Linked DNA regions of Homo sapiens: regions 1 and 2 are each linked to region 3. The links come from fine-mapping of genetic effects on gene expression. A gene starts in region 3. Each other region holds a variant in brackets. All regions are shown on one strand. Distances are between the middles of the regions. Region 1 overlaps TAOK3 (TAO kinase 3). Region 2 overlaps SUDS3 (SIN3A corepressor complex component SDS3). Region 3 holds the start of SUDS3 (SIN3A corepressor complex component SDS3).

The links. PIP is the estimated chance that this variant, and not a neighbour inherited with it, causes the effect.
Region 1: its variant is the best candidate, but not a certain one, in a credible set for the expression of SUDS3 in whole blood (INTERVAL, PIP 0.50).
Region 2: its variant is the best candidate, but not a certain one, in a credible set for the expression of SUDS3 in whole blood (TOPMed, PIP 0.67).

The regions. Positions count from the first base shown.
Region 1 is chr12:118,199,753-118,210,265 of GRCh38, reverse strand. TAOK3 (TAO kinase 3) reads left to right here. Exons shown (of 21, transcript NM_016281.4): 12 at 8,803-8,970. Among named protein-coding and RNA genes, the nearest start is that of PEBP1, 69 kb to the right of the region's middle. The variant C/T (reference allele first, on the strand shown) is at 5,648.
Region 2 is chr12:118,416,283-118,426,795 of GRCh38, reverse strand. It overlaps SUDS3 (SIN3A corepressor complex component SDS3), which reads right to left. Exons shown (of 12, transcript NM_022491.3): 12 at 8,763-10,513. Among named protein-coding and RNA genes, the nearest start is that of SUDS3, 45 kb to the right of the region's middle. The variant GTA/A (reference allele first, on the strand shown) is at 4,825.
Region 3 is chr12:118,369,061-118,379,360 of GRCh38, reverse strand. SUDS3 (SIN3A corepressor complex component SDS3) reads right to left here and starts at 2,806. Exons shown (of 12, transcript NM_022491.3): 1 at 2,528-2,806. The coding sequence starts at 2,669. LOC124903031 (a long non-coding RNA gene) reads left to right here and starts at 3,234. Exons shown (of 2, transcript XR_007063480.1): 1 at 3,234-3,405; 2 at 3,570-4,063. TAOK3 (TAO kinase 3) reads left to right here and starts at 6,454. Exons shown (of 21, transcript NM_016281.4): 1 at 6,454-6,713. RefSeq lists silencers at 2,410-2,559, 2,590-2,809, 6,331-6,580, 7,365-7,424, 7,525-7,614 and enhancers at 2,251-2,751, 5,961-6,010.

The DNA of each region.
Region 1 (10,513 bases), 170 kb after region 3:
TTTTAAAAATTGCTCAATAACAGAATCTAGCCAATATAGAGATGAAGCAAAAAGAAGAAAAAGAGGGAGGAAGGCAAGCAGGAAGAATGAATGAGGGACTGGAGAAACTGGTAAAAGGGCTGATGGTAAATATTGAATTTAAAGAGGCCCCTCCCCAAATACTTATTTATTTATTTTGCATGGCTAAAGAAGCTGTATGTTCTTCATTTTAAATAGGTCTCACAAATTTCCAAAAGGAAAAATACAGTAGAAGGTACAACCTGGGGCTGGGCACAGTGCCTTACACCTGTAATCCCAGCACTTTGGAATGCTGAGGCAGGCAGATCACTTGAACCTAGGTGTTCAAGACCAGCCTGGACATGACAAAACCCCATCTCTACAAAAATTAGCCAGGTGCAGTGGCATGCGCCTTTAGTCCCAGCTGCTTCGGAGGCTCAAGGAGGAGAATCACTTGAGCCTGGGAGGCAGAGGTTGCAGTGAGCCGAGATCCTGCCATTGCACTTCAGCCTGGGTGATGGGAGTAAAACCCTGTCTCAAAAAAAAAAAAAGAAGAAGAAGAAGAAGAAGAGCCGGGTGCAATGGCTCACACCTATAATCCCAGCACTTTAGGAGGCCAAAGCAGGCAGATCACCTGAGGCCAGAAGTTCAAGACCAGCCTGGCCAACACGTAGAAACCCCATTTCTACTAAAAATATAAGTATTAGCCAGGCATGGTGGTTCACACCTGTAGTCCCAGCTAATCGAGTGGCTGAGGCAGGAGAATCGCTTGATCAACTAGGAGGTTGCAGTGAGCCGAGATTGTGCCCCTGCACTCCAGCCTGGGCAACAGCAAGACTCTGTCTCAAAAAATAATAAGAGAAGGTAGAACATGAAAAAGAAATCTCCCTCCCATTTCAGGCCCCCTCACTAGCAACCACTGCACCTATTTTGTACCTCTCCTTCTAGTGATATTTTATGCATATAAAAGTAAATGTTGTTTTTATTTTTGCACAAATGACAGCAAACCATAAAAACCGTTCCACCCTGATTTTTCTTTTTGCTTTACAGTGTGCTTAGGATATTGTTTTGTATTACTACATGCAAAGCTACCTCATTCTTTTTAATGGCTCCATAATATTCTTAGATGGACCATAATTTGTTTAACCAACGCATTTAGGATGTTTCCAATCTTTTGCTATTACAAACTGTGCCGTAATGAATATCTTTGTGTATATGGCATTTTGTCCCTGTATAAGAATATCTAAAGAATAAATTCTGGCCGGGCACGGTGGCTCATGCCTGTAATCCCAGCACTTTGTGGGGCCAAGGTGGGCAGATCACAAGGTCAGGAGTTCAAGACCAGCCTGGCCAAAATAGTGAAACCCCATCTCTCCTAAAAATACAAAAATTAGCTGGGCATGGTGGCATGCGTCGATAATCCCAGCTACTCGGGAAGCTGAGGCAGGAGAATCACTTGAACCCGGAAGGCGAAGTTTGCAGTGAGCCGAGATCGTGCCACTGCACTCCAGCCTGGGCAACAGAGCAAGACTCCATCTCAAAAAAATAAATAAATAAAAATAAAATAAAGAAATTCCTAGAAGTGGGATTGCTCATCAATGTGGATTTTAAATTTAGATAGATATTGCCCATTTGTCCTTCAAAGCAGTTGCACCAATTTATAGTCCCACCGTGAAAGTATGAAGACTGATACTTTTTGAACTTTGTCAGATCAGTGAAAACTTTTCTCACTATAGTTTTAATTGCTATTTCACATTATGGGAGATGTTGAACATCTCTCTCGTAAGTTGAAAAGCCATTTGTATTTCCTTTTTAATTTATAGTAGATCTTGGATTTTTTTTTTCCTATTTCTCTTTTGACATTCTTTATGCTGATGTTTTGTGGAAAGGAGGTGGGGAGAGTTATGCAAAAATTTGTTACAAGGAGTGAGGTAAAAATCTACCTTTTTTCCCCCAGCTAAGCTATCTACTTACTCCCAGATATTTTTCAATAATACATCTTTTCCATGCATTTTTGCCCTGACATTAAAACATCACTTTCACACTTAATCCATTTAAATAAACAACTGAGGTAAAATTATTGAAATGGTTAAAGGACAGATGTAAATGTTAGAAACATTTGCAATGTAAAAATAATGTAATTAGAAAAATCTAAGGGCAGGAAAAACGTATGCATACTAATTTCCTTATCTTTCCAAGTAGATGGACAATAACATTTCTTAAAATATATAGGACAAAAGAACTAAAGTAACTTCAATCTCGTAAAGCCTTTAATAATTTTTTTTTTAACTTTAGAGGATCTGTTAGGAACAGATAACTCTTTTGGTGAAGAAATTACAACTAAAGTTAAGCAATTGTTTTATTTTTTAATTTGTGCATGTGTGTGTGTGTGTGTGTGTGTGTGTGTGTGAGACAGAGTCTCGCGCCGTTGCCCAGGCTGGAGTGCAGTGGCGCGATCTCGTCTCACTGCAACCTTCGCCTCCTGAGATTCTCCCTAGCAATTCTCCTGCCCCAGCCTCCTGAGCAGCTGGGATTACAGGCACACGCCACCATGTCTGGCTAGTTTTTCTATTTTTAGTGGACACAGGGTTTCACCCTGTTGGCCAGGCTGGTCTCAAACTCCTGACCTCAAGTAATCCACCCGCCTCAGCCTCCCAAAGTGCTGGGATTACAGGCATGAGCCACTGCATACAGCCTATGCAATCGTTTTAATTCAGTCTCTTCTAATCCTGTTAAATTCAAATATACCTTAATTAAATCGATTATACATAAAATTAGCTTGTATAATCAGATTCCCATGTAAAATGATTTCTAGTTATTCATTGTTCTGAGAGAAAGAAAGGGACATGTCTAAAATGATATTCTGTAACTTAATATTTATGTATTTATTTCGAGATGGTAGAATTTCGGGTGATTTTCTTTCTTTTTTTTTTTTTTTTCCTGAGACGGAGTTTCGCTCTTGTTGCCCATGCTGGAGTGCAATGGCACGATCTCGGCTCATGGCAACCTCTGCCTCCCTGGTTCAAGCGATTCTCCTGCCTCGCCCTCCCTAGTAGCTGGGATTACAGGCATGTGCCACCACGCCCGGCTAATTTTCTATTTTTAGTAGAGACAGGGTTTCTCCATGTTGGTCAGGCTGGTCTCGAACTCCTGACCTCAGATGATCCACCCTCCTCGGCCTCCCAAGGTGCTGGGATTACAGGCATGACCCACCGTGCCTGGCCGATTTTCTTTTTTTATACATTTTTCTGTGTTATTTGAGTGTTGAAAGTAAACATATTTTTGAGAACAATAAAATTGTCCTTTTAAAAGAGTCCGAGGGCATTCCAGTTGTAGGGGTTTGGAGAACAGTGGGCTTTTAAAAACAATGAGGAGGCCGGGTGCAGTGGCTCACGCCTGTAATCCCAGCACTTTTGGAGGCTGAGGTGGGCAGATCACGAGGTCAGGAGATTGAGACCATCTTGGCCAACATGGTGAAACCCCATCTCTATTAAAATACAAAAAATTAGCTGGAAATGGTGGTGCATGCCTGTAATCCCAGCTACTTGGGAGGCTGAAACAGGGGAATTGCTTGAACCCGGGAGGTGGAGGTTGCGGTGAGCTGAGATGGCGCCACTGCACTCCAGCCTGGCGACACAGCAAGACTCTGTCCCAAAAAATAAAAATAAAAAAAAACAATGAGGAGATGGGATTGCAGGCAGAGAGAACATAGAGATGTGAAGGCAAAGGCCTAGAGGTGTGAAAGGTATGCACGGGTTTAGAATTACCTAGAATGTACCTAGAATTGTGTAGGAAGGAGGAGTAGCAATGACTAGATTTAAACCTAGAAATACAAGCAGGAACCTGGCTGTAAAAGGCTACACTTTATCTAAGAGACAGTGAGATATTAAGATGTAGAGTGTATCTGTTTGTAAAAGGTTTAAACAGGTAAGAGTTTATCTCATGTAATAGGAAGTCCAGGACATTGGAAAAGGAAGTGGCGTAAGCAGTCCAAAGCTCTAAGCAGCTCAACAATGTCGTCATCGACCCAAGCTCTTTCTCTCTTTCTACTTCACCATCCTTAGCATGTAGCTTTTATTGTCTTTGTCATAAAATGGCTGCTACATTGCCATGACTCAAGTTTTCATTCCAGGCAGGAAGAAGGAGAGAGAACAAAGGGTAAAACACCTTGTCCTCATGTGTCTTGCCTTTTTATTCTAGAAAATAAAACCTTCCTTGAGAACTTCTGCCTACCTCTCACTGGCCAGAACTTAGTCACTTAGTGATCTGTAACCACAAAGAAGGCTTGGGTTCAGTTCCTTTACTTCCTAGTGCTTCAAGTAAGGCAAAAAAAAAAAAAAGAGAGAGAGAGAGATTGGGTCTGAAAGCTGTGGCTCATGCCTGTAATCCCAGCACTTTGGGAGGCTGAGGTGGGTGGATCACCTAAGGTCAGGAGTTTGAGACCAGCCTGGCCAACATAGTGAAACCCCATCTCTACTAAAAATACAAAAAGTAGTTGGGCGTAATGGTGCACGCCTGTAATCCCAGCTACTGGGGAGGCTGAGGCACAAGAATCACTTGAACCTGGGAGGCAGAGTTTGCAGCGAGCTGAGATTGCACCACTGCACTCTAGCCTGGGTGATAGAGTAAGACTTTGTCTCAAAAAAAAAGAAGTTGGAATGGGGGAATGACATGTAGTATCTGTTGCAATGAATGATCATACCTGTATTTTAGAAAGATAATTATGGTAGTAGGACACCAGAAAATAACCACCACCACCCACACCCCTGGCAGAAAAAAATTTTTAAAGCCTGAGTTGCAGCCGTAGCTCTTCTACTAATTAGCTATGGAAATCACCTAACTTCTCAGGGCCCAAATTTTCTCACTTTGAAAAAGAAAAATTTTCTTTCTTTTTTTTTTTTTGAGACAGAGTCTTTCTATGTCACCCAGGCTGGAGTGCAGTGGCCTGATCTCGGCTCATTGCAAGATCTGTCTCCCAGACTCAATTGATTCTCGTGCCTCAGCCTCCCGAGTACCTGGGACTATAGGCGGGCACTACCACGCCTGGCTAATTTTGGTATTTTTTATTTTTACTTCTTATTTATTATTTTTATTTTTTTTAAACAGAGTCTCACTCTATCACCTAGGCTGGAGTGCAGTGGCATGATCTCGGCTCACTTCAGCCTCCTTCTCCCAAGTTCAAGCAATTCTCCTGCCTCAGCCTCCCGAGTAGCTGGGACTACAGGCACGTGCCAACATGCCCTGCTAATTTTTGTATTTTTAGTAGAGACGGAGTTTCATCATGTTGGCCAAGCTGGTCTTTGATACTCCTGACCTCATGTGATCCCCCTGCCTCGGCCTCCCCAAGTGCTGGGATTACAGTTGTGAGCCACCATGCCCGGTCCCTAATTTTGGTGTTTTTAGTAGAGATGGGGGTTTGCCATGTTGGCCAGGCAGCTCTTGAACTCTTAGTCTCAGGTGATCTGCCCGCCTTGGCCTCCCAAAGTTCCGGGATTACAGGAATGAGCCACCATGCCCAGCCTTGAAACAGAAAGTTTTCTAAGAGGCATTCCCGTTCTAAAATTCTATGATGTTAAGTCATAGCTTTAAGTTTACTAAAAACCGATTAGCTCTTTATAATTGTAAGCACTAGAGGAGGAAAATGATAATA[C/T]TTTCTTCCTTTCTTTCTCATCCTTGAAATGTGCAGGCTACACTTGCTTCTGGGAATGATGTTTTTTATTCAAAAAGGACTCTACCTAGGAAGAGGTATTTTATAAAAGCAACAGCAAAAACCACAATTCCTCTAAGAGAGTCAGAATGCAGAACCACAAGACATATAGATTGTTTTCTCACAAGGGCCCTATTATTTTTTATCTGTTTAAATTATAAAGAAATTAAATTCATTTCATCAGCTAAGGCCCACTACATTATATCTCATTTTCCCAATGTCTTCAAATTACAATTTTACATAAGTAAATTTTCCACATAACTGAACTTTTGCCTTTAAAAAATAATGTCTTTTTTTTTTTTTTTTCCATTCTGTCACCCAGGCTAGAGTGCTGTGGTGCAATCTCGGCTCACTGCAACCTCTGCCTCCCAGATTCAAGCCATTCTCCTGCCTCAGCCTCCTGGCTTGCTGGGATTACAGGCATGCATCACAATGCCCAGCTAATTTTTTGTGTTTTTAGTAGAGACGGGGTTTCACCATGTTGGCCAGGCTAGTCTCAAACTCCTGACCTCAAGTGATCAGCCTGCCTCGGCCTTCCAAAGTGCTGGGATTACAGATGTGAGCCACCACGCCCAGCCTAATGTCACTTCTTGAGGGCTCAGAAACAGTGTTTCGTGAACTCTTGAGGCATAAAAGGGGCTATATAAGGGGCATTTGCCCTTTTGCAAAATAGCCCACAAACCTGTTTTATTATTATTTGTTTGGTTGATAGGTCTGTTAGTCATGAAATTTCTCTCTGTTTCTCTACTCTCAAGCTGTCAGAGAACTTACAAAAGCTACTTCTTTTTACAACAGGTGGTAACCCTACCTTTCCCAGTCCTCAATCCTTTACTCCTCACTCTTTTTTTTTTTTTTTTGAGATGGAGTTTCACTCTTTTTGCCCAGGCTGGAGTGCAATGGTGTGATCTCAGCTTACCGTAACTTCTGCCTCCCAGGTTCAAGCAATTCTGCTGCCTCAGCATCCCGAGTAGCTGGGATTACAGATGCACGTCACCATGCCCAGTTAATTTTGTATTTTTAGTAGAGAAAGGGTTTCACCATGTTGGCCAGGCTGGTCTTGAACTCCTGATCTCCAGTAATCCACCCGCCTCAGCCTCCCAAAGTGTTGGATTATAGGCGTGAGCCACCGCGCCAGGCTTACTTCTCCATTCTTATTCTCTGTCTAACCTGCTATGGGCTGAGAAACTAGGAAACCAGATTATGTAACAATCATTAATAATATTGAAAGTGAGGGATGTTTATATCAAGATTAATTTATGGACTTTAGGGCAGTTGTTTTCACTCCTCAGAGACCCTTTTTTTTAATTGGGGAAATGAAGTTGCCAGAATTTTGACCTCTGGATAAATTGAACAACTGGCATATTTTCAAGCATACACTATACGGCCACAGAAATAGAGAACAAAATATTCACAAGTCTGTTTTTCAAGGGATAGTGTGTATGGGGGTGAGGATTGAGGCAAGTTATAATAAGAATAGAACAAGGTGCGGTGCGGTGGCTCACGCCTGTAATCCCAACACTTTGGGAGGCTGAGGCGGGTGGATCACTTGAGCTCAGGAGTTTAAGACCAGCCAAGGCAACATGGTGAAACCTCGTCTCTACTAAAAATACAAAAATTAGCCAGGCATGGTGGTGCATGCCTGTAATTCCAGCTACTCGGGAGGCTGAGTCAGGAGAATTACCTGAACCCAGGAGGTGGAGGTTGCAGTGAGCCAAGATCGCACCACTGCACTCCAGCTTGGGTGAGAGAGCGAGACTCCATCTCAAAAAAAAAAAAAAAAAAAAAAAAGAATAGACTATACTATGCATTGCTTCTGCTTATTATGTAGTTTCAGATTTAAAAGGTACAAGCCTACCTCCTACTTCTTAAAGTTCTAGTGATTTTTTTATTACTTATATGATAAAGTAAACCTCAAGAATTCTTATATGAAAAGATACTCAACATTCACTAATTATTGGAAATGGAAATGAAAACCACAATGAGGTATCACCTCACACCTGTTAGAATGGCTATTATCAAAAAAGATAAGCGATAATAAGTGGCAAGGGTATAGAGAAAAGGGAATCCTTATATACTGTTGGTGGGAATGTAGATTGGGGTTGCCATTATGGAAAACAGTATGGAGGTTCCTCCAAAACCCAAAAAACAAAATGTTAATTTGTTCCAATAATCCCCCTGCTGGTTATATACCTGAAGAAAATGAAGTCAGCACCTCATAAAAATACCTGTGCCCCCATGTTCATCACAGCATTTTTCTCTATAGCCAAAATAAGGAAACATCCTATGTGTTCATCAGTGGATGAAAGGATAAAAGAAATTATGGTATATGTGATATAGATATTTAAGACTCAATAATATATATGACTGAATATTTTATTATATATATTTATTATATATTTGTTTATTTATAATATTTATTTTATATATAGTCTTAAGAAAGTGGGCCTGCCATTTGCAGCAATACATGTGAACCCAGAAGACATTATGCTAAGTGAGATAAACCAGACACACAAAAAAATAGCATATGATGTCACTTACATGTGGAAAGTAAACAAAGAATAAAACACAAAATGAAAGGTGGTTGAAAGGGATGGGGAATGGAAAGATGAAAGTCAAATGGTACAAAGTTTTAGTTATGTGGGATAAATAAGTGTAGAGATCCAGTGTACAGCATGAGGACTATAGTTGATAATATTGTATTATATCTGGGAAATTTGCTAAGACTAAAGATTTTCGGTACTTTGCCACCAAGAAGTAACTATATGAGATAATAGATATGTTAATTTGCTTAACTGTAGAAATCATTTCACTATATATATGTGTATCAAAACATGTTGCCATATACTTTAAATATGTACAATTTTTAAAAAGAATTCTCACATCCGCAAAATGGGGCTTAAGGAAGAAGAAAAAAGCATAGCTATCTCTTTATGAGATTTACAAAATATGGAAGGACACATGACATGAAAATCATATTTTGTTATTTCTGTAATATCCATAGAACTATTTTATGATTCTCTATTTCCTTTTATATCTGTACCTTGCACCTAAGGACATTTCTTCATTATCAGTTTATTTTTTCCTCCTCCCTCAATCAGCATGACTTTGTTCGACGAGACCGGCCACTACGTGTCCTCATTGACCTCATACAGAGGACAAAAGATGCAGTTCGTGAGCTAGATAACCTACAGTACCGAAAAATGAAAAAAATACTTTTCCAAGAGACACGGAATGGACCCTTGAATGAGTCACAGGAGGATGAGGAAGTAGGTTCAATTTATTTTAGCAGGCACTTATAGAATGCCCACTATGTGAAAAAGTTCTAGACTGGGCACTATGAAAAACTTTTGAAGATAAAAATTAATTGATGCTGTCCGCCTTAAGAAACATGAAGGGTTGTACAAGAGACATTCATAAAATAACACTTATATAAGGCAAAATATGAAAAGTGCTACAGAGGTGTAACCCCATTGCAGGGGTCCATCATGGGGAGAAAATAAGTCTGCTGGTGGGATTAGTGAAGGTTTCCTGGAGGACATGATGTGGGTAGTTTCTGACAAATGGGCATAGGGTGTTCTAGACTCAGAAAGGTGTTGTGCTTTAGGAAGATTATCCTAGCAACAGAGTGTAACATGGATTTGAATGGGCAACATCCTGGCTAATAGTCCATGCAAGAGGTAATAAGGTCAGTGTCGATGCAAATGGGGAAAAGGGAGCACTTTAGAGAAACATCGTAGAGGTAGATTTCATAATCCATGGCTTCTCATTGACAGTGACAGATAAGGAGGAGTTTAAGGTGACTCTGAGCATTGGAGCCTGGGTGGCTAGGAGTATGTCAATACCAAGAACAGAGAAAAAGAACCAGGGAGAAAGAGTAGATTTAGGATGATTTCAGTTTCGTGCCTTTTGAGTTTAAGGTCCTGGCATTATAAACTCTTGCCAGTATACAGATAGAAGTTTTCAGTTAGAGAATCCTTGATGACCTTAGTAAAAGCAGTTTTACAGGACTAGGTAGAATGAATAGTAGATTACTGGAGTTGTATAATTCATGGGAGTTGATAAGAGGGAGACAGGAAAAAATAATTATGTTAAGATTCAGAAATTGGGTTAAGAAGGAAAAGTAAGAGTGGGCAGCATGTAGAGAGATCCATAAATATAAGGCAGGCTTCTTCATCTTTAAATGCAGTAGAGATGGAGCCAGGGCAGAGTCAGAGGCACCGAAGATAGAAGAAAGGGATATAGTTAAAGAGGCAGGATTTCAGAACGTAGACATAACAAGAACAGGAGTATTTTAGCTTTTTAACAGAAAATAAAATAAACATAAAAGTATTTTATCAATAATTTTAAAAATGAAGCTCGGAAAGTTGCATTGAACTATAAAATTTCTTGATTGCATATATAGAAATGATCCCCTTTAATTGGGAAAATAAGTCTGTTAAAAATAATGTATTATCTTCCATTTTATATTACCCAGTAATTTTTTATATTGCCATGGCTAAGTAACAGTTTATTAAAGTTATATGTGTACCATATGGTTTTTTGAGAACAAGGTTTATTTGTAGCTAAATGGATTTAATTTTATTATTCAATCTTATATCAAAAGATATCCCACTGTGATGGATAAATTATATGTTCTGATTATTTTACCACTTTTCAAATAGTAGTCTTTGGGCCAGTAATGATGAATACCAGTATTATTTAACAGATATATATAATAAGATTACAGAGATAAGCATGATAGAATCGCTTGAGGGAGGCAGACTTTAATTACCTGTCCAGGAAAGTAGAATTAATATTTCTGCTTAGATA
Region 2 (10,513 bases), 47 kb before region 3:
TAAAAATCAGGTAACAAAAATAGCTCTTAGAAAAAAATTGTAAATGCAAGAACAAAGGTAAAACTCAGTAGAAGGGTTAGAAAATAAAATTTAGAAAATCTCCCAGAATGTAGAGTAAAAAGACCAAGGATGGAAAATAAGAGATAAAAGAAAATATGAAGACTGTTACAGGAAGTATAAAATCCAAGTAACAGAAATTTCTGAATGCAAGAACAGAGAAAATGTATTATCCATTACATTAGTTATCCAGTGCTGCATAGCAAATTGGCCCAATTACTCAGCAGCTTATAATAACAATTTTTTTTATCTTACCCAATTTCTGAGGGTCAGGAATCTGGGAGCAGCCTAATAGGATAGTTCTGGCTCAGGGTCTCCCGTGAAGTTGCAGTCACGTTGTTGGCAAGGGCTGCAGTTTCATCTGAAGGCTTGAATGGAGCTACAGAATCCACTTTCAAAGTGACTCACTCACAGGGCTTCAAGAAGCCTCAGTTACCAGCTGGATATTGGCAGGAGTCCTCAGTTTCTTGCCACACGGGCCTCCCATAAGGCTGGTCAACATGGTCGCTGGCATTTCCCAAAGCAAGTGATCCAAGACTGCACTATCTTTCATACCCCAATCTCAGAAGTGACATACTATCATTTCTGCTGTAGGCTATTGGTCACAGAGATCAACCCTGGTCCAGTACAAGGGTAAACTGCACAAGGGTGTGACTACCAGAGACAGGATCACTGGAAGCCATTTGGAGGCTGACTATCACATTATATATATATTTCTCCCCCAGAATATAAGGGCATACATTTTCAGAATTGAAAAACCCTCATAAGCACTGATTCTCCCCAGATGATAAAAAGAAAGAAAGACCTCCTAACAGCTTAACATAGTGGGCCCACACCAAGGCCCATCATCATGAAACTTCAAAACACTGAGAATGCTATAAGCTTCCAGAGATGTTAAGAAGTCATCTAGAAGAATCAATAGTCAGAATAATTCTGACTTCTCAAGGGCAACATTGGAAGCTAAAAGCAATAAAACAATGTCTTCAAAATCTTGAAGAAAAATGTCCAGACTAGAATTAAACCCACCAAAATAAAGGGCATTGCAGAAGAAACAACCAAATTTTAGTGGATGGAAAGTAGATTAACACAGACATGCAAACATCTGCGTCTTAAGACTGACAGTGGAGAATGCCAACAATAATGAATGAACAGCACGAGGAAATGAAATGAAAATGAAGGAACGGGTGGGGTGGTTAAAATATACTTTAAGTGCCAAGTACTTAGAAGAACAGAATGAAAGTCTTTTCAACCCTGCTTGGGAAGTGGCTGGAAATGTGCTTTAACAAAATGGGCGAGTAAAGTAGAGAAACAGGAAGACAAACAGGAAGAAACAGGAAGACAAAAAATGAAAGATTCAAACCCAAAGAAGGGATAAGGGAGCTCTAGCATGGTGATGCAGGAACTCCAGAGTGACAGCTGTGTGCCACGCCAGGAGGAACCAGTCCAGTGCAGAGCAAATTGGGGTCCTCAAGAAGGAAGATTTTTCAAGGTAACAAAATTGCTGGAATTCCTGGTGCATCAGAATGCCTTAGGGGGAGAATTTGGGCACTTGGTGAAGAGTTTAAGGTCGAATTAGTAATAAGTACACAGAAAACTAAGCAAACAACAAAAAGAAAAAAAAAGACAGTTATTAACTCCCGGGGGGAAAAGCTGTCAAGGAAAGATAAAGCAATCATAGTGTACAACACGGCTCAGCTGCAACTAGCATTTACATAGTCATAATAACATAAACGTTGAATACTGACCTAACGAAAATCCTGAAATAACTACATTGGGAGAGCGAAGGATGACCCCACAGTGGGAATTTAGTAGATAACGCCTGGAACTGAAATATCTAGCTTTAATAATAAGCAGCCTATTTAGAAATAGATACTAGATACCAAAATAATCAGCTAAAAGAGATAAAATAATCAGCCAAAAGAGATAAAATAATCTCTGGGAGGGGGAAATAAAGCAGAGGGCAGGGGGCTACTCTGTTTTGTGGCCAACTCTGTGGAACCTTTTGACTTTCTGGATAGCCTTCACATTACTATGATTTTAGAAAGATATTGATGTCCTGCAACGAGAAGTAGGAGGCAGTAGCTAACCATTCCTCCATTCAGCAAGCACTCAATGGGCACCTACAATGTACTCGTGTTGGGAGATTTGGAGGAAAAACAAAAAGCCCCAGTCCCTGTCCTCTCTGGCTCACAATCCAGTGGCTATCTCCACACACCCAGAGAGGCAGCAATTCAAACTCTTCTCTAGTGAGAAGGTTAACAAGATGAAAACAGATGCCTGGAGATCTGCTTGTCTTGAACTAGTCAAGCCACTTGACTAGTGGCTTCTGTTGGCCTTCCCTGGATGGCGTACCCTTGGAAGTTCACCATGGGCTTATCCTTGAGGCACAATGGGACCTGCCTGAGCAGGTGGGGCAGGAGTTGGGGTAGGCAATCCCTGTGATAACCATGCCCACCCGGCACGGGCATGGTGTGGGCTACATTTTCTGTTTGTTTGGTTTTTGGGATGGGGTCTGTGTCTCCCAAGCTGGAGTGCAGTGGTGCGATCATGGCTCACTGCAGCCTCAACCTCCCGGGCTCAAGCAATCCTCCCACCCCAGGCCCTGAGTGGCTAGGACTACAGGCACACACCACCACGCCTGGATAATTTTCGTAGATACAGCATTTCATCATGTTGCCCAGCCTAGTCTCAAACTGCTGGGCTCAAGTGATCCTCCCACCTCAGCCTCTCAAAGTGCTGGGGTTACAGGTGTGAGCCACCACACCTGGCCAGGTTATATTTTCTAAAGCACTCAAGTGACCTACAGAGTTTGTTTGAAGCACAATAGTTATTATATTGTTTTGCTTGCATGACTTCATTTAATCTTGACAATAAACCTTGCTATTATTAGTCCCACTTTCTAGATGAGGAAACTGGAGCCCCGAGAGGTTATGTGATTTGCCTAAGTTCACACAGCTTGTAAGCAGCAGAGTTCAATCCAGATTCAAACCTGTCTCAAGCCCCTGCCTCTGAGTCTCACAACTGGATTTCTTTTCTCCATTTAGATTGTTGAATTGAGAGTTACAAGAACTGAGTTCTAGCTTGGCGTCTGTTTCCAGAAGCGAAAAATGGAAGGGGTTGGCTAAGATGACAACTAAGGGTCCTTTATGCTTTGGCCATCTACATTAGGAAGACAGAAGCCAAAGGGGAAAGGAAATGTGTGAACGTGGTGCAGAGGTGAACACTTCCCCTCCTCAAGCCTCATTTTCATCATCTGTAAAATGGAAATCACGAAGACACACATCACAGGGCAGTTTAGTATATTAAATACAATAATGTATAAAAAGTACTTAGCCCTCACCCAAACACATCATAAGTGCTCAATAAATTTGAGCCCTTATTCCTTCCTAATATGCCCGCAGGGCTCCACCAAGCTTGAATTCCCATAAGCTTTCACTTCTGGGAAGGTCAAAGAACCATGTTTGAGAGAAGAGGACTGATCAAAGTAGGAGAAAGGGAATCAGGTAAAATTACTGTCTAACAGGAATGTGTGCTGTTGCCCTTTATTGGTTTTACATATGAGTTAGCTTATTAATACTTTCAGGAGCATGTTAGTGTGAAATTGGAAAGCATCACTGCAGGTCAGCCATGAGCCACTGCACTGGTGACAGAAAGGGGAAGAAGAGCAAGCAGGGCAGGCACAGTGGGGAGAAGAAAGGAGAGAGGCAGAAAGGAAAGGAAGGCGAGTCCTCGATGGGAAAGGGCAAAAAGATAACCAAACAGGGAGCAAACTGGTTTTAAAGTTCAAGGCTTGTGGCCAGGCGTGGCGGCTCACGCCTGTAATCCGAGCACTTTGGGAGACTGAGGTGGGTGGATCATGAGGTCAGGAATTCAAGACCAGCCTGTCCAACATGGTGAAACCCCGTCTCTACTAAAAATACAAAAATTAGCCGGGCATGGTGGCAGGCACCTGTAATCCCAGCTACTCAGGAGGCTGAGGCAGGAGAATCGCTTGAACCTGTGAGACGCGGCGGTTGCAGTGAGCCAAGATTGTGCCACTGCACTCCAGCCTGGGCGACAGAGCAAGACTCTGTCTAAAAAAAAAGAAAAAAGAAAAAAAGTTCAAGGCTTGTGATGTATGTTAAACACACGCTACTATTTGACTTTAAACATGACTCATATCCACTTGTCTTTTTGCTCAAGCCATTTCCTCTGTATGGAATTCCCATTCTTGGTCATAGACACTGCTCAAGGCCTGCCTAGCTTTCTCTGAATCCCCCAAAAGAGCCTAGAACACTACCTAACATGCAGTAAAATTCAATAAATGGTTTTTGAATTGAATGCAATGACAAATGTGTTCCTCAAGCTTATGATTATTTACTATTTCAAGTAGATGAAGAAACACTCCAAACAACTGGCTGCAGGTGACCAAAAGATTATCATAGCAAAGTTCCCTGTCTTGTTTGGGATAAGAGTGAAGGTCTCCAGGGACCCGTTCTGTGGTGGAAACACTTTCTTCCAATAATAATGAAAACAAGAATAACAAGGAAAAATAAATATGTATTGCCTTTAGTCCCGGCTACTTGGGAGGCTGAGGCAGGAGGATCGCCTGAGGCCAGGAGTTTGAGGCTACAGTGAGCCATGATGGTGCCTGTGAATAGCCACTGCACTCCAGCCTGGGCAACACAGTGAGACCTCATCTCTAACAATGTGTGTATGTATATGTGTGTGTATATATACATGTGCATATGTGTTATATTACACACACACATATGTACGTGTGTGTGT[GTA/A]TATCTATATACACAGAAAGGGAGAGAGAAAAGACTATGTCCCAAACACTATTTCTAAGTACTTTATCAATAATAAATTACTTAACCCTCAAATCAAATCTGTGAAAAAACAGCAGTTGTCACCCCCATTTTACAGTGGAAACTGGGTAGGGTGACCAACCATCCCAGCTTGCCCCAGTCTGACAGGGCTCCTGGGATACAAGACTTTCAGTACTAAAACCAGAAAGTCCCAGGCACACTGGGATGGGAATACCCTAACACTGAGGCACACAGAGACTAAGAAAATGTCCCAAGGTTAATGAGTGGCTAGGCCAGGATTATGAACTCAGGGCCTTCATCACCTCCACTGGGCAGGTACAGACAGAGGCAAAAATGAACCCATAGAACGATGGCAGTGTTAGGGTATTTCCATCCCAGTGTGCCTGGGACTTTCTGGTTTTAGTCCTGAAAGTCTCATATCCCAGGAGCTGTCCACTATGCTTTCCAGCACCCAGCCCGGCATAAAGAGGTCCTCAAATGATTGTCCTAACCATATTCCAGCTGTAGTACTGACTATAGCCCAGCTGTGGTACTGACTATAGCTCTAAGACCACAGGAAAGTCATTTAACATCTCTGGGCTGCAGCTGTTTTCATCTTCAAATGAAGGGCTCAAACTAAATCAGGAACACTAAATGGACTCCCTTGCTCACAGCAGAAAAAATGGATTGGGCAACTGTTTCTTGCTCTACTGGAACTTGGGCCTCAGAGTCCTTCTCACCCCTGCACCTGGGGCAGTCCCCACCCATTTGTAGGAGGTGATGCTGAGCATGGTCTCTAAAGCCAGCAGCTTTACCTTCGTGGTCTGCTGTTAGCTGAAGTAGCTTTCCTGAAATGGTTCTGATCGCTTAGGATCTAGTAGTCAGACTAGCATCCAAAGAGAGAAGTATACAAATGGCCACAGCATCTGTAATGGTAGGGACAGTCTCCACAGACTGGCAGTAACCATGTCCAACCCTGTGTTATGTACTCCTCACAGTACAGCAGGGTGAATGAGGGCAGGGACTCTGGAGAGACTGCTTGGGCTCAGAATCCCGGCTTGCCATTTACTGGCTGTGTGACCTTGAGCAAGTTACTTAACCTCTCTGTTTCTCGATTTCCTCAATTACAAAACAAGGACTATAATTGTAGCTACCTCATAGGGTTGTTACGAGGATTCAGTGAGTTAACAGAATACTTAGCACAGTAGGTGCTATGTTTTAAATATGTTTTTAAATTGTATTCCTACCAGAAGGAAATTGGGGCTGTGTTAATATTATTAGAATCCTCAAAAACATATCTGAAGTAGATATGATTTAGCAAATGAGGAAACTGAGGTTCAAAGAAATTAAGTTGCCCAAGGTCACACCTAGCCAGCTTAACAGTAAAGCCAGATTCAAATCCTGATTCCAAAGCTTCTGTTCTTAGCCATAATGCCACCCTGCATCTCAGTAAACACTCAAACACTTATGAAAATAATTGGTGGTGAAATAAAGGGGGTTCCTGGTTACCTGCAGGGGCTTGCTAACCTGTACTGTACTCCTGCGTTGAGTATCTGCTTGCTCCGTACCGGTGTTGCTGACTCCCAGGACCTGGGGCATTGTTTTCCTGACTGGCTCTGGGAATGCCACCTACTGTACCCCCTGCCTGTCCACACCACTGGCAGAGAGAGGTGATGCCAACAGATCTGAGCATCAGCCTACGGAAAAACACAACACACCGCTAAGTCTCCGACTTCTGAAAAATATGAATCTTTAAGATTCGGGTTATTGGTCTTCTCGTATCAGTAAAGTGAATATTTTATAGATCTGTATCTTTCAGGGAATCGAGTAAACACAGATTAGAGAAAATGAGCAAAGGGATTAAGCATCTCGGTACCTATGCTGTCTCTTATCTACCTCTCTCCTCTAAGGATCCTCCTAAATCTACTTTTTTGTCTTAATAATCAGTTATTCACAAAAACATCTATTCTGGTAAACACCAAAGTTCCTAAAGCAAATGTATTCCTCACCATATTATGTTCAAAGGGAGTGAAATGATGTTTCTAGTTCATTCCATCTGGTGCTTTTTAAAAGCAGGAAAAGTGCTTAGCCTTCCCAAGGATGGGGCTTAGAGTTCCTCAAATGATAGTGCAAGAGGCCAGAAATTGGTTCTACTCCTGCCTCTGCCCAAAGACTGCACACTCCTGGTTTGGTTGATAAGCAGGTCGCCAATTAGAACTGAGCAGTTTCGGGGCAGGTGACATGGAGCTAAGGTATTTATTCTTCCATTACAGTGCCTCTACAGGAGGGCATGCCATGGAAAGGTCCAGTGACATCAGAGCATCAAGATGCTGAAGGCCCAACTCCATACCGACATTTTTAGAAACCAATTCAATGGCTCCAACTCCATAGATGATAAGGCAGGGAGGGAGGAAGTGATCTGAAAAAATACCGATACATGTTTTTGCCCAAAGGCTCTCTTGTAGCTTATTGGATAAAGCAGTTCTCATCACGACCAATGAGCTGTTTCCATTCCTTTTTAGGATGGTTATACTCATGCAGGATCAACAGAAAGCAAGCTCTTGGCTGGTCACCATGGCTCTCAACTATATTGCCAAGAGAGAAACCCAGAGTTATCAGGCAGGGGAAAGGGTCCTGCAAATAATAGTGTTTGTACTTCTAGCATTTTGCTCTGGGAGCATGTGTGTATAGGAGGTGAAAGCAGCTTATGTATTTTAACAAACAAACAAAACCTCCCAGGGAAATCCTGAAGAAAGGCAGAAATGTTGAACGTAATTTTAACAGATTAACATGGGGAAGGACTGCAAAGTGTAGTGGTTAGGGGAAACCTGGCTTGGAAACTTTAAATCCAGACTGTTATGTACTGTGTGACCTTGGAGAATCACCTCCTCTAATTCAAGGAGTCTGTTTCCTTCTTTAAAAACTGGTGAGATGCTTGCTTCATGGGTGACCAAAATAATAATTGAATACTGGTGACAGCAGCAGTGTACTCTCCTTAATTTATTATGAGGCTTAAATGAGGTAACACAAGGGAAGGGGCCAGCACCCAGAACATGCACTATTACTCACCAGTTTGCCTTGGCACATCATACCCTAATATCATTTGCTAACATTTACAGAGTATTTACGTATGAGGCACAGTGCTGAGCTCTGGGTTTCTAGAATTAAGTCAAGGCTTAGACTGAGCCAGCCTTAAATTTGGGAGTTAGTACTCTTTCAGAGATTGTGAAGATTAGTGAGAAAGTGCCTCCCATGAGGGGTTTAGTACAGTGCCTGGCATATATACAAAGTACTCAGGAAAAGGCAGACTATGACATCAAGGGCAAGCCCCACTTGCCTTGGGAACAATGGGGAGGGTGAGCAGGTTGACCTGAATCTGTTTTTCCCCTCCCCAATTAGTCATATCCTTTGCTGCTAGCTCTTTGCATTCCTGGTCAATCCCTAGCCTATACCAGGTACCTGGCTCTTCTAGAACAACCATGGAAGGAAGCAGCTCAAGAGCTTGAAGGTTAAGGTACTTAAAATAGAGAAAACTAGTTGGGAGGAGTAGCTGAAAGTCTAAGGGGCTTGTGGGTTCTGGGAATGTTATTTCTTGATCTGGATGCTATAATAGTTACATGGATGAATTCACTTTGAGAGATTTCAACAACTTCTACAATTAAAACTTGTGCACATTTCTGTCTAATTCAAACATTTTAAAAACAGAAACCACCCCTCTCCATCATCTAAAGCATAAAGCAGTCTTTCCCAAAGGGGTGCCATAACTGGGTCACAGGTCGGTCACCTGTGGCAGCACGCAGGCTTGTTGGCTGACCCCGGGAGCAGTACAAATACCATCACTGTTTGGTTAAGATTGGTAGGCACTATCTCAAAAGCCAGGAACAATATCCTCCTTAATCATGCACCAAATGAACAATATCCTCAATCACAAGTTTATTTCAAGATTGTTTTTCCACCCAAGATCCATTCTATTCACTTGATTTTTAATGACTTTTATCTGCAACAAGAAGAGTGCACAAACATTTAAGGGTCAACACCCCAGATTGCTCTTTACAAAACTGAGTATTAGCCTGACATCATTCTGTATCTTAGTCTTCACTAAGAATTAAATGTCTAGAATATCCCTTCCTCTGCCCTAACTTCCTTTCCCCATAAGCAATGGATCAAAAACCTAAAATAAATTTCTATCACTTATCAAGTCAATGGATACAATACAGACTTCATGCTGGTTTTCTCTTTGAAAGTTTATTGTTTTCTTTAAAAAAAAAAAAAAACCTATACCTTTTATATTTTACATTCACCTCTCAGAATATTTAATGGTACCCGTTAACGATGTTATAAAAAAAGACCATCACCTGCTTGAAATGGCTGCAAATTTACCATGTTCTGGCATTAAAGTGATTTCAACTCTTTGGACAAATTGGTGTAACAGTAAGCACCGAGATTTCAAATTCCCAGATGAGAAAAAAAAAATTAATCAGGAGGAAATTTATTTAGTAAAAATTCAAAGCTAAAGAAATGTGAGAAGGAAGCCAAACCCAAAAAACTGTAAAAAATACAATCTTCTCTCCAGAATTAGGTTAAAAAATACAGTCAACCCCATTCTAAACCCCATATTTCTTAGAAAAGTCACCCAGTCCTGAACACAGGGTCTTATACACAAATACATGTAGCTTGATTTGCAGATCAGCCTCTGGGATCGACCTTACACTGGCCCCAATTAGAAGTTCAAAAACAAAAATTAAGTTAGGTAGTCAGACATCTATAAATACTAGTATCCGCATGAATGAAAACACCCTGGCTTTGGTATGGCTACAGAAATCCATCTGGAAATTATTCAAAAGGACGTGGTTCAGGGAAAAGGGGGTAGGCAGGGCATGGGGGGAGGGGAACACACAAAACCCCCAAGCAGAGGTAAAATGAATATTGGAACACACCCGCAGCAAACACTGTACATAGACTTGAGGCAGATGCCTCTAACACAACACATATACAGGTTCTTGATCAAAATGGTCTGGACCAACCTTTTTCAAAGTAATCACCTGCAGGAAAGAGTTTAAACTTGGAAATTCATCTGGTGCCCTGGGGTCTAGTGAGAAACAATGACCTTTTGGAATAATGGCCACCCAGGCTAGAAGCTAGCCTCCTTCTCGTCTAGAAACTTCAAAGTCTGTCTTCCCCTTTAGTAAGGCTTCTGCCCACCACAGAAGTACCCCCATCTACTAACAGGAAGGCTGCTTCTGTTCCTGGTCACCACTGAGGCCTGTCAGGCTTCAACTGCTGATTTTTCACCTCTGGGGTGACAAAAGAAAATATTAAGTCCTCTGGGATTAGAAATGTAATTTACTATGCTGATTCTCAAAATGGACTTCTCACCTGCCCCCATTTTCACTAGGCCCAATTAAGAGTTGTGAGGACGCCGAGGAGAAGGCAATGGCGGAGTCGAGACTATGACTAAGGGCGCCCTCAATACCCTCAAAAGTCAGAGAGGAGAGAAGGCAAAAGTGCCCATACCCTGGTCTTCAAATAAATAGTTGCTTCACAAAAGCAGAGGTCCCACAGAGAAGGCCAGAAAAAGAGGCAATTTGTTCCTGCTTCAATGCGGAACCCCAGTGGTTATCAATACAATCCTCAACTATAAAAACAAACTTTGGTATACTGTTTAGGAG
Region 3 (10,300 bases):
GGTTCAAGCGATTCTCCTGCCTCAGCTTCCCAAATAGCTGGGATTACAGGGGTGCACCACCACACCCGGCTACTTTTTGTATTTTTAGTAGAGATGAGGTTTCGCCACGTTGGCCAGGCTGGTCTCGAACTCCTGGCCTCAAGTGAACCACCTGCTTTCGCATTCCAAAGTGCTGGGATTACAGGCATGAGCCACTGCACCAGGCCAACAGTACACTTTAAATCATCTCTAGATTACTTAGAATATCCAGGCCAGGCATGGCAGCTCATGTCTGTAATCCCAGCACTTTGGAAGGCCAAAGCAGGAGAATCACCTGAGGACAGGAGTTCCAGACCAGCCTGGCCAACGTGGTGAAACCCCATCTCTACTAAAAACACAAAAATTAGGGCCAGGTGCAGTGGCTCACGCCTGTAATCCCAGCACTTTGGGAGGCAAAGGCAGGTGGATCACCTGAGGTCGGGAGTTCGAGACCAGCCTGACCAGCATGGAGAAACCACGTCTCTACTAAAAATACAAAATTAGCTGGGGGTGGCGGCACATGCCTGTAATCCCAGCTACTCAGGAGGCTGAGGCAGGAGAATTGCTTGAACTCGGGAGGCAGAGGTTGTGGTGAGCCGAGATCGCGCCATTGCACTCCACCCTGGGCAACAAGAGTGAAACTCCATCTCAAAAAAAAATAAAATAAACAAAACAACAAATAAAACCACAAAAATTAGCCAGGCATGGTGGCAGGTGCCAGTAATCCCAACTACTCCGGAGACTGAGGCAGGAGAACTGCTTGAACCCAGGAGATGGAAGTTGCAGTGAGCTGAGATCGTGACACTGCACACCAGCCTGGGTGAGTGAGTGAGACCCCATCTTAAAAAAAAAAAAAAAAAGATTACTTACAATATCCAATAAAATGTAAATACTATGTAAGTAGTTGTTACGCTACACTGTTTAGGAATAACAAAAAAAAAGTCTGCACATGTTCAGTACAGATCCAATTTTTTTCCTGAATATTTTTGAGCTGCGCTTGGTTGAATTCACAGATGCAGAACCCACAGATACGCAGAGCCAACTGTATACAATAAAAAAGGGGAATCTGACACAAATAAATATTTTCCAAGTTACAACTAAAGGGAACAAGGAGGAGGCCAGATGATCAAACGAAAACTGTTTCAGAACATCTTAAACATTGTTCTTAGAACAAGCTAATGGCTGGGGTGTGTACAAAATTTTAATAGCCCCTATACTGGAAGGAAAAAAAAACTCAATTTTGGCTCCACAGCGCCCCCTCGTGGGTATGAGATGAAGTGCAAGTGCTTCACATTCAAAATCTCTGGTTAAGCCGTGTCTTCTGATGGAATTAAATCGAATGCAGTCCCTCAACTTTGTATGTCATGCATATGCAGCTGTCTTTTGTAAGGCTGTTGCAGATCCAATTCCCCACAAACCCTTCTCCCCTCCTTCAGTCAAGAGGCCTTCCCTGAGTTCCTGTCATGGTCAGCCACATTACTTGGCACTCGGGAAACTCAGATGAATAAAACGTAGGCCCCATTCCAAACAGCTGGTCTAGCTTTTGCTCCACGGCCCGATTTTGTCCCAGAATATTCCGCTCATATATCGGTCTCTCTTTGTTTCCTATTTCTCCTCCCTTGATCTCTCACATTTCATCACCTTCCTCCTCCTCCATCCCTCCAAAATAGCGTTCCTCACACTTGCCAAATTATAAAGCCCAGTTTGAAAAGCAAGGCTCTGAGACTCTGTGATGACAGTGCAAAGAGCGTGGGACTGAAAACACAACACCTGGGGACCATTAAGCAAATCTCTCCCTCTCTTACCTGTTTCCGGGAGGGGGGCGGGTGGGGAGAACATTTACGGAGTATTTACAGTACCAGGCCAAGTACTTTATGCGCATGTCATTTAATCCCTATACCGACCCTAGGAAGTGCCTTCTAGGGCAGGTGTGGGAATTAAACAGCTCCATTACAGTTGGGTAAATCGAGGCTGGAAAACTTAAGTTTACAAAGCTGAGTTAAGTGACAAAGCCAAATTTAAACCTGTATCTGGCTGGTTCTAGGTCCCTTTCCTTTAACCAACCTGAGTTCTCAATAGTGTACTACCTAAAGTATAGATGACTTATGCATTTCGGGGGTGGGGAGGGGCAACTTTGGACTCTGATGCTCTCACACACAAAAAAGGGGCGAACTACACTCGATGTATTCAGTAAATGAGTTTCTAATTCCTACTAGTGAGTGAGGTTCAATCAGAAACGGCTGGGAGGGAGGACGGGGTCTTAAAGGGACCCCCAGCGTGACAACATCTAAGTCCCCTCTCCCCATCACGGTCGAGTGTAACGCACCCAGGGCTTCCCCGCTACTCCAGCACGGATGGGGGTAACTTCCCCGAGCCCCGCAACTCCCGGCGGCCCCTCCACGCAGCCCCAGGCCCCGGAGGCCGCCCCGCCCCTCTCCCGAACAGCCCCACCCCCTCCCCCAGCGGTCCCACCTCCGCTCCGGGCGGCCGGGCGAGCGGCAGGACTCACCTTCGTCCGACTCGCGGCCCCGACAGCTGCGCTCGTCGTCCTCGGCGCTCTCCAGCTCTTCATCCTCCTCGGGGTAGTACTCGGGGGCCGGCGGCGCTCCAGCCTGGGCCGGGGCCGGGGCCAGCAGCCCCGCGGCACTCATGTCGCCTCTGACCGCAGCTGAGCGTGGCCCACGGACACCGCGGCCACCCGCGCTCGGTACTCGCCGTCTGCCTAGCAGTGTCCGCGGCAGCCCCCAACTCGAGGACCGGCAGCCACGGCGACCCCTTCCCCGTCTCCGCCGAGCTCCGCCCCCCGCGCCCGCGCTCGGCAACGGGGGCCTCGCGCCGCGAGCGACTTCCGGGTCGAGAGCTGCCCGACAACGGCCTGATTCCGCCATCCTTGGGGGAGTGGAGATGCCGCTGGACGCCCCCGTCGCCACAACCTCAGCCCTTTCATCGCCGTCTTAAAATCCTCAACGTATAGTGGGGGAGGGGCGGAGCCAGGTTCGCTAGAGTCAGGCAAATCTACGGGCAGGCCCAGCAGCGGTCAGGACCCCGAGGCTCGCAGGCGACTTCCGGAGACAGCCGCCAGGCGGCGCCTGGAGCTAGAACTAAAGCGGTGATCGTTAGCGACCTAGGGGCGGAGGGTTTGAAGGGCCCTTGGCAGGTGGAGGTGGTCTCTAATTTAAGCAGGGAACGACGCGACCTGCCCCCTTATTAGGTCGGAAAACCTAGACGTCCAGAGTGTGCGTGATCATGCAGCCTGGCTCCTCCTGTGACTAGTTAGAGCTTTATTAAGAGCTAAAAGACAAGGATGCTGATATTCCATCCTGGGGACAGCAAAATAGTATTTTCCCAGCCCTTAGGAATCCTTTCTGTTTGTGTAAGGTTTATTCGGTAAGATGTTCCCCCGGTTTTACAAATGAGAAACGAGCTGTCGTTTGCCTAAAAAAAAATAGTAACGTCCAGTCTGATTTTTTAGACTCCGAGACCCAGGCCCTCCGCGGTACAGCTGCCTTGAATATTAATTTTTTAAAAGGTGCTTTTGCTTAATCCAACAGCTTGCTCTGAGCTCTCAACTGAAGAAGGGGAGAATTTGCCTACCAGAAGTTATTTGGCTAAGGCCCACGTGGAAGCTTAAAAAACAGGAGAGCTGAGTATCTGCAAGAATTAATTTGTGCGATTCCCTCTGAGTAGAAAAGGAACACGGTGTTATAAGTTTTGCTGAACGAATAGATTTAAGGTGTCCCTTTAGCTAAGAGCAATGTGGTCTAGTTGTGTGTAGCGAGAAAAAAGGGTAAGGTTTTTAATGGTTTGTCCAAAGTAGCCCCACTTTTATGTTCCACCCGAGTCTCCGTAGGAAACGCAACCAGTAGTGAAAATGAACAGATGTGAAAACCAGGGTGGAACCGAATATTCCCATTCTCAGACCTTTTGTGATTAAATTTATCTCTGAATTGTTCCCTATGGACTCTTCTGAAAATGAAACGTTATTCTCATCCCACTTATTTTGACATTTATTTACTACCTTGTTTTAATTAAAATCTTGGCTCTATTTGTAAGTGATTTTTTCTCCCAACAAAACTAAAGAATTTCCAGAATGGAATGCTAAGATGTCTTTCCAGGAGTTCTGAGATCTTCTGAAGCCCCTTCTAAATAAGAATCATTCTCAGATCGCACCGTAGGTCTGCCATCTATATTTAAACTAGGATTCCAGAACTGTCTCTTGTCCAAAAGATGAAGTCATTTTCTTTCTTTGTGCTGTTGGAGAACATCTAAATTACTTGCAATCAACTATATTGAGTAACTTGCGTTCCTGTCAGTAGCAGTAATCATAGTGCAGAAAAAGCAAAGATTTTAGAAATCAAGAGTTCATTGATACAATTAATTTTTAAGTTTATTTCGTTGCTAAATGGTTTCCTTTCAAGACGCTGAGATTTTTATCCTGCTTATGTTTTACTGCTGTCTTCTTGACTGCAAACAGCATCTGTTAATGGTCATGCATTTCTTTTTTATATGTAATGAATAGACACAACTGAGCACTTGGGTTATGAAAACTTACCCCATTTTTTTCTGTCCAGATTGCCAGCTGCAGAACTAAAAAATGCTCTTTAGTGAAGGTGGACCTACTCAAAAAAATTCTCTTATGGCTTTAGTCTTACCTAACCTTTAGATTTATTTAATATGATTTTGGACAGTCGCTATACTCCTGTAAAAATCAAGTTCCCTCAAAACCAAGTTTTACCACCTTGAAATCTTTTTATATATCCCTTCTCAAAACGGTACTCAGCCACACCGCTCAGGAACTCGACTTGACTTGAAACGAAGCCCTGCCAGCCCCATTTCCACAACTTCTTTGCTTCCAGGCCTTCTCTGCCTACCCTAACACCCAAACTGAAACTTTAAAGGGGGACATCACAATTGGAATGGAGTATGATTCTTTTTTTTCTTTTTCTTTTTTTCTTTTTTTGAGACGGAGTTTTGCTCTTTCACCCAGGCTGGAGTGAAGTGATGCGATCTCGACTCACTGCAACCTCCGCCTCCGGGTTCAAGTGATTCTCCTGCCTCAGCCTTTCTAGTAGCTGGGATTACAGGTGGGTGCCACCATGCCCGGCTAATTTTTGTATTTTTCGTACAGACGGGATTTCACCATGTTGGCCAGGCAGGTCTGGAACCCTTGACCTCAGGTGATGAATGGCGTATGATTCTTAAAACACTAGAAGAAACATGTATACTGTTTAGAACACAAACACATTTTGTCAGCTGGAGTTAAAAAGTTAACAATCGAGGGTTCTCTGAGAACTAAGGCCTGTATACATCTGACAAAACTTAGGATCAAAATGTGTTCCTGAGACAATTTCTTCATAAAATGCTAAATTCTAAAGTCCATAAACTTACTTTTGGCGTTAAGAGTAAGGAAAGCAGTTTTCTGTTTCCGGTGTTGATTTGATCAGCATATCCAGTTTCACAAAAATAACACAAATGGGTCTTAGTAGCATGATGCACTTTCACCCCTGGCAGGCACTATCCTTTAGCGTGGATCAAGAGGAGTCTCTGATTATCACATGTTAAACCTGGGTCAAAGCTCGTTATCCTTTGGCCACACGTTCACATAGAATCATTAAAACCTGTGGCCCTGGAAAAAGGTTATATTGAATAGCTTTGCTGAAACCTTGTTAAGCTAATAATAGGGTTCCCCTACCACAGTCTTCCTACTGTCATAAAAACCTACAAACTGAAAATTTCTAAAGCTTTGTCCTTGCACCTATCAAAATGTGCCCCGCATTGAACGCTTAGTTGGGCAAAGTATGCACCTAGTACTGTATATAGATTTTTTTTCCCCCAACGGTATCAAACTGACGGCTGCTGAACTCAATTCAAGGAGAGGCAACTCCCTTGCAAGAGATTTTAAAAAGAAATGGTTTAAATCCAGGAAATTTTTACAAATCCTGGGCAAATTAATGCTATATTAGTTCATGGCAGAATTACTAAGAAAGCTGTGCAAGGTCTAGCGAGAGACTGGGGTCCTCCCCAAAGGCTCTAACATGGTGGTCCCTGGGAATCTCCCAAGAAAAGTAAAGGCGTGGGGAGAAGCGCCATGAACTTTGACCGGAGAGCAGCACAAACAAGACTGACCGCACCCCAGGCGGGCCCGTAGGTTACTAAAGTTGCAAGGTCTTCCGCGTCTGAGGAGACCCCGCCCTGCCCTGTCCCGCCCATCGACAACTCCGCCAATCCTCGGGTTCCATCGACCGCTCGGCTTCCCAGGCTCCATCAATCAAATACCTATATACGGCCCCGGCCCTGTGCCCCGCGATCAGGGAAGGTCAGTAGAGAGCCTATTGGAGCCGAGCTTGGGGCGTGGTCCGGGGCAGGGGGCGGGCGGACTGAGACGGTGGGGCGGGGCGTGCTCGGCGCAGTCCGGTGCGATTGGCCACCCCTGGCAGGAGCCGCACCTCGGACAGCAGCAGCGGCGGCGGCCGCGGGAGGGTCCTTGTGGCGCCGGGCGGCGGGGTCCTGCGTGGAGAGTGGGACGCAACGCCGAGACCGCGAGCAGAGGCTGCGCACAGCCGGATCCGGCACTCAGCGACCGGACCCAAGGATCCGCCGGGGAACAAGCCACAGGAGAGCGACTCAGGAACAAGTGTGGGAGAGGAAGCGGCGGCGGCGGCGCCGGGCCCGGGGGTGGTGACAGCAGGTCTGAGGTGAGAGCACCGGGGCGCGGGGCATGACAGTGGGAGCCGAGGCGGCGGGACCCCAGGCAGAGTGAGGGGAGTTGCGGGAGCGGGCTCGACAGTGCAGACTGTGGAGAGGAGACCCCGGGAGGGACCGGGACAGCGGGTGAGGAGAGGGGACTCCGAGAGGGACCGAGGCAGTGGCTCTGAGTGGAGAGGACTCCGAGAGGGTCCAAGACTGAAAGTCTGAGGGGAGGGGTCTCCAAGAGGGGCCGGGACAGTGCGCGTGAGAGGAAGGGACCCGGAGAGGGGCTGGGGTAGTGGGGTGAGGGGTGGGTGCCTCATGAGGCACTAGGATAGGGGGATGAGGGGAGGGGGTCCCCTGAAGGACCAGGTCCCAGAAAAGGTCAGGGACAGCGGGGAGAGGGGAAGGGTCCCCGAGAGGGGCCGGCACTGAGAGTCTGAGAGATGGGGACCCCGAGAGGGGCTGGGACAGCACCCGGGGAGAGGAGACCCCGAGGTGAGGGGAGGGGACCCAGAGAGAATCCAGGACAGAGTAAAGAGAGGGGACCGGTCAGGGGATGTGAAGACAGGGGATCCCCAGAGGGCTTAGAACAGAGTGTGAGAAGACCCCAGGAAGGGCCAAGACAGTGGGAGAAGAGGAGGGGTCCCGGAAGGGGGCTGGGCTGAGACAGCGGGGCTGAGAGCAGGACACCTAGAGAGAGGCCGGGACAGCGGGTGGGAGCAGGGTGACCCCGAGAGGGGCCAGGACAGCGGGGTGAGAGGAGGGGACCCCCAGAGGGCTCGGGACAGCGCATGCGAGCGTGGGACTCCGAGAGGGGCTTTGAGCGTCGGGTGCAGGCGCGGACCCCGAGGGAGGAGCGGTGCCCCATGGGTGCGGGTCGGGCCCCCAGTCACATAGCGGGGGCCCGGCGTGAGCAGCGAGGGAGCGGGCGGGGGGTCGCGCCCGCTGAGTTGCGGGAGCCCCCCCAAGAACGGCTGCGGCGGGGAGCCTGGGTCGCAGTCGCGGCGTCGGGCAAATAGGAACCGGCTGCAGCGCAGACGAGTGGAGCGGGGAGGTGCTCCCAGGGTCTGGCATCAGCGACCTCCCTGAGGGTGGAGTGTGAGCCCCCGGGACTCCGGGGGACTCCGGAGCCGGATTATGTCATGAAACATCTCTGAAGTGAAACGCATGGGCTGGAGGAGCTGGAGGGGCTGGTGGGGCTGGCTGCAGGACAAAGATCTTGGAATGATCAAGAGACCTGCGCGGCCTGACCTCTTCTCACTGGCCCGCTGGCTTCGCATTCGTTCCTTAGAGTCTGATGTGGATGTCTTGAAAGCGAGGGGCTTCCTGATCTTAATGAAAAGGTCAGGTGAAAAGTTGGAAGGGGCTTCTTCAAACCTCCCCCACTTCCCCCTCCACAAGAAGTTGAAAGGGACAGGGATCCTTTTGGAGACCCGTGTTTTAGATTAATAAGAATATTTCTTTGATAGACCCTTGCGTTTTCCTGGACTACTGGTTTTTCATTTTAGCTCAAGGAGCTAAGAAACTTTTTTAGATTTGGCAGCATATCAGTATCAATGTTTACAATGCAGATTTAAAGGAACTATACTAGGTTTGGAATCTGGACTGTTTAACTTTGATCTGTTGGAGATAGTTGGAAGGTCAAACTAAATTTTCAAAAGAGGTTTTGGAGTCGCAAAACTAAGAGCTCTTTCCAATTAGATTTCTTATCCTAAAAGCTGCCAGGATTGAGCTTTAGGCGTAATTCCAGGACAAGCTAAGGAGAGAGATAAACCTATTTAAACCAGACACTGTGTGTCCTGGTGGGAGGCAAGTGTATCTATTAAAAGGTTGAAACAAATAGTGGGAAGCAATAGGGGGTGGGAGTTGGGGGACAGCCTCCTACTCTGAGGGATGTGAAAATTAAACTAATGATCAGGCTAGTTGTTCACAGTACTTAGGATATGTTAATACTGCCCTACCTACTTTTCAAACTCGAATGCACATGCTTTGTTATGGTTGTACCCAGCAGTTTTGTATTTGAATTTTTAAAACCTCCTTTTCAATGTTTATAGGTTGTATCTCCTCACCTCTTGGACTGGTTTCTTTTTTTATAGAAGCAGACATCGAAAATGATGGTTTTAGGAAAATAGTGAGGAATGTAATTACTATGTAATGTCGGTTATTTAGATATCGCCTTTGTTTCAGGTTTAGAATGTGTTTTATTAGAAGTCTTTTGCCAGTGTTCAATATAGGCAGTTTCAACTAAGAGGAATAAAGGAATGTTGTATTATTTCCTAAATATATAATGCAGATGCCTTACATATAACTGCTATGTAAATCCAAGACAAAAATTACTGAAGTTATTTTTATCAGGGTAATAATAAGTAGAGGAGAAGCACTGTTTAGGGATTTTATTTGACATTACCTGATACAGAGCAGTTCTTCTATGGCTTCAGAGAGTGTGCAGCTTGATGTGGTTATGAAAATTCCACTAACATGGCCAGGCGCGGTGGCTCACACCTGTAATCCTAGCACTTTGGGAGGCCGAGGCAGGCGGATCACAAGGTCAGGAGATGGAGACCATCCTGGCCAACATGATGAAACCCCGTCTCTACTAGAATACAAAAAATTAGATGGCCGTGGTGGTGTGTGCCTGTAGGGCCAGCTATTCAGGAGGCTGAGGCAGAGGAATCGCTTGAACTCAGGAGTCAGAGGTTGCAGTGAGCCAAGATCGCGCCACTGCACTCCAGCCTGGCGACAGAGCAGGACTCCGTCTCAAAAAGAAAAAAAATTCCGCTAACTAGAAGTCCTCTCCTGAGACATAGAAATTATACAGATGAGAGAAACAACAACAGCAAATACAGATTTAAAATATGAGACACTATATTTAAGATGTATTGAGTGTATTTTTTTTTACATTAAATTTATTTTTCCAGAATGCTAGATCGAATTCAAGTAAAAATAAGGTCGGTTAACTCAAAAGGGTATTTAGAACAGGCATATATTCATTTTGCAATGCATATAATGTATGAAATGGCCTGTGGAAGGATTGAGAATCTCAATATCAATAGTTCTACAAAGTAATAGAAATATTTGAGCAGATATGCTTTCACCATATTTGTTAGCTCATTTCTGACTGGTACAAATGGTTGTTTCTTAAGACAAAACATTAAATTTATTTCCTTGTAAGAAAAGAAAGTGCTCTGATACTCCCCTAAGTGATTACTAAAGCAGTCATTTCAACCACATTATATTATGGTATTGATCCAGAGACGTTAAAGAGAGATTCTTTGCAGTAGAATTTGTAGTGATAGTAAAGGCCTATAATAACTTCATTCCCTGGGGGGTTAGGAGAGTAGGTAGGGATTCTGTGAAAAATTTTTTCATTTGTTTCAAAAAACTAAAACTATACTACGAGAAGCTATAAATATATGAAATCATTGTACCTTGACTTGCTTATTTATTTATTTAATTTATTTGAGACAGGGTGTATGTAGCTCTGTCACCCAGGTTGGAGTGCAGTGGCGGGATATTCTCTCACTGCAGCCTCTGCCTCCCAAGATCAAGCGATCCTCTTGCCTCAGCCTCCTGAGTAGCTGGGACCACAGGC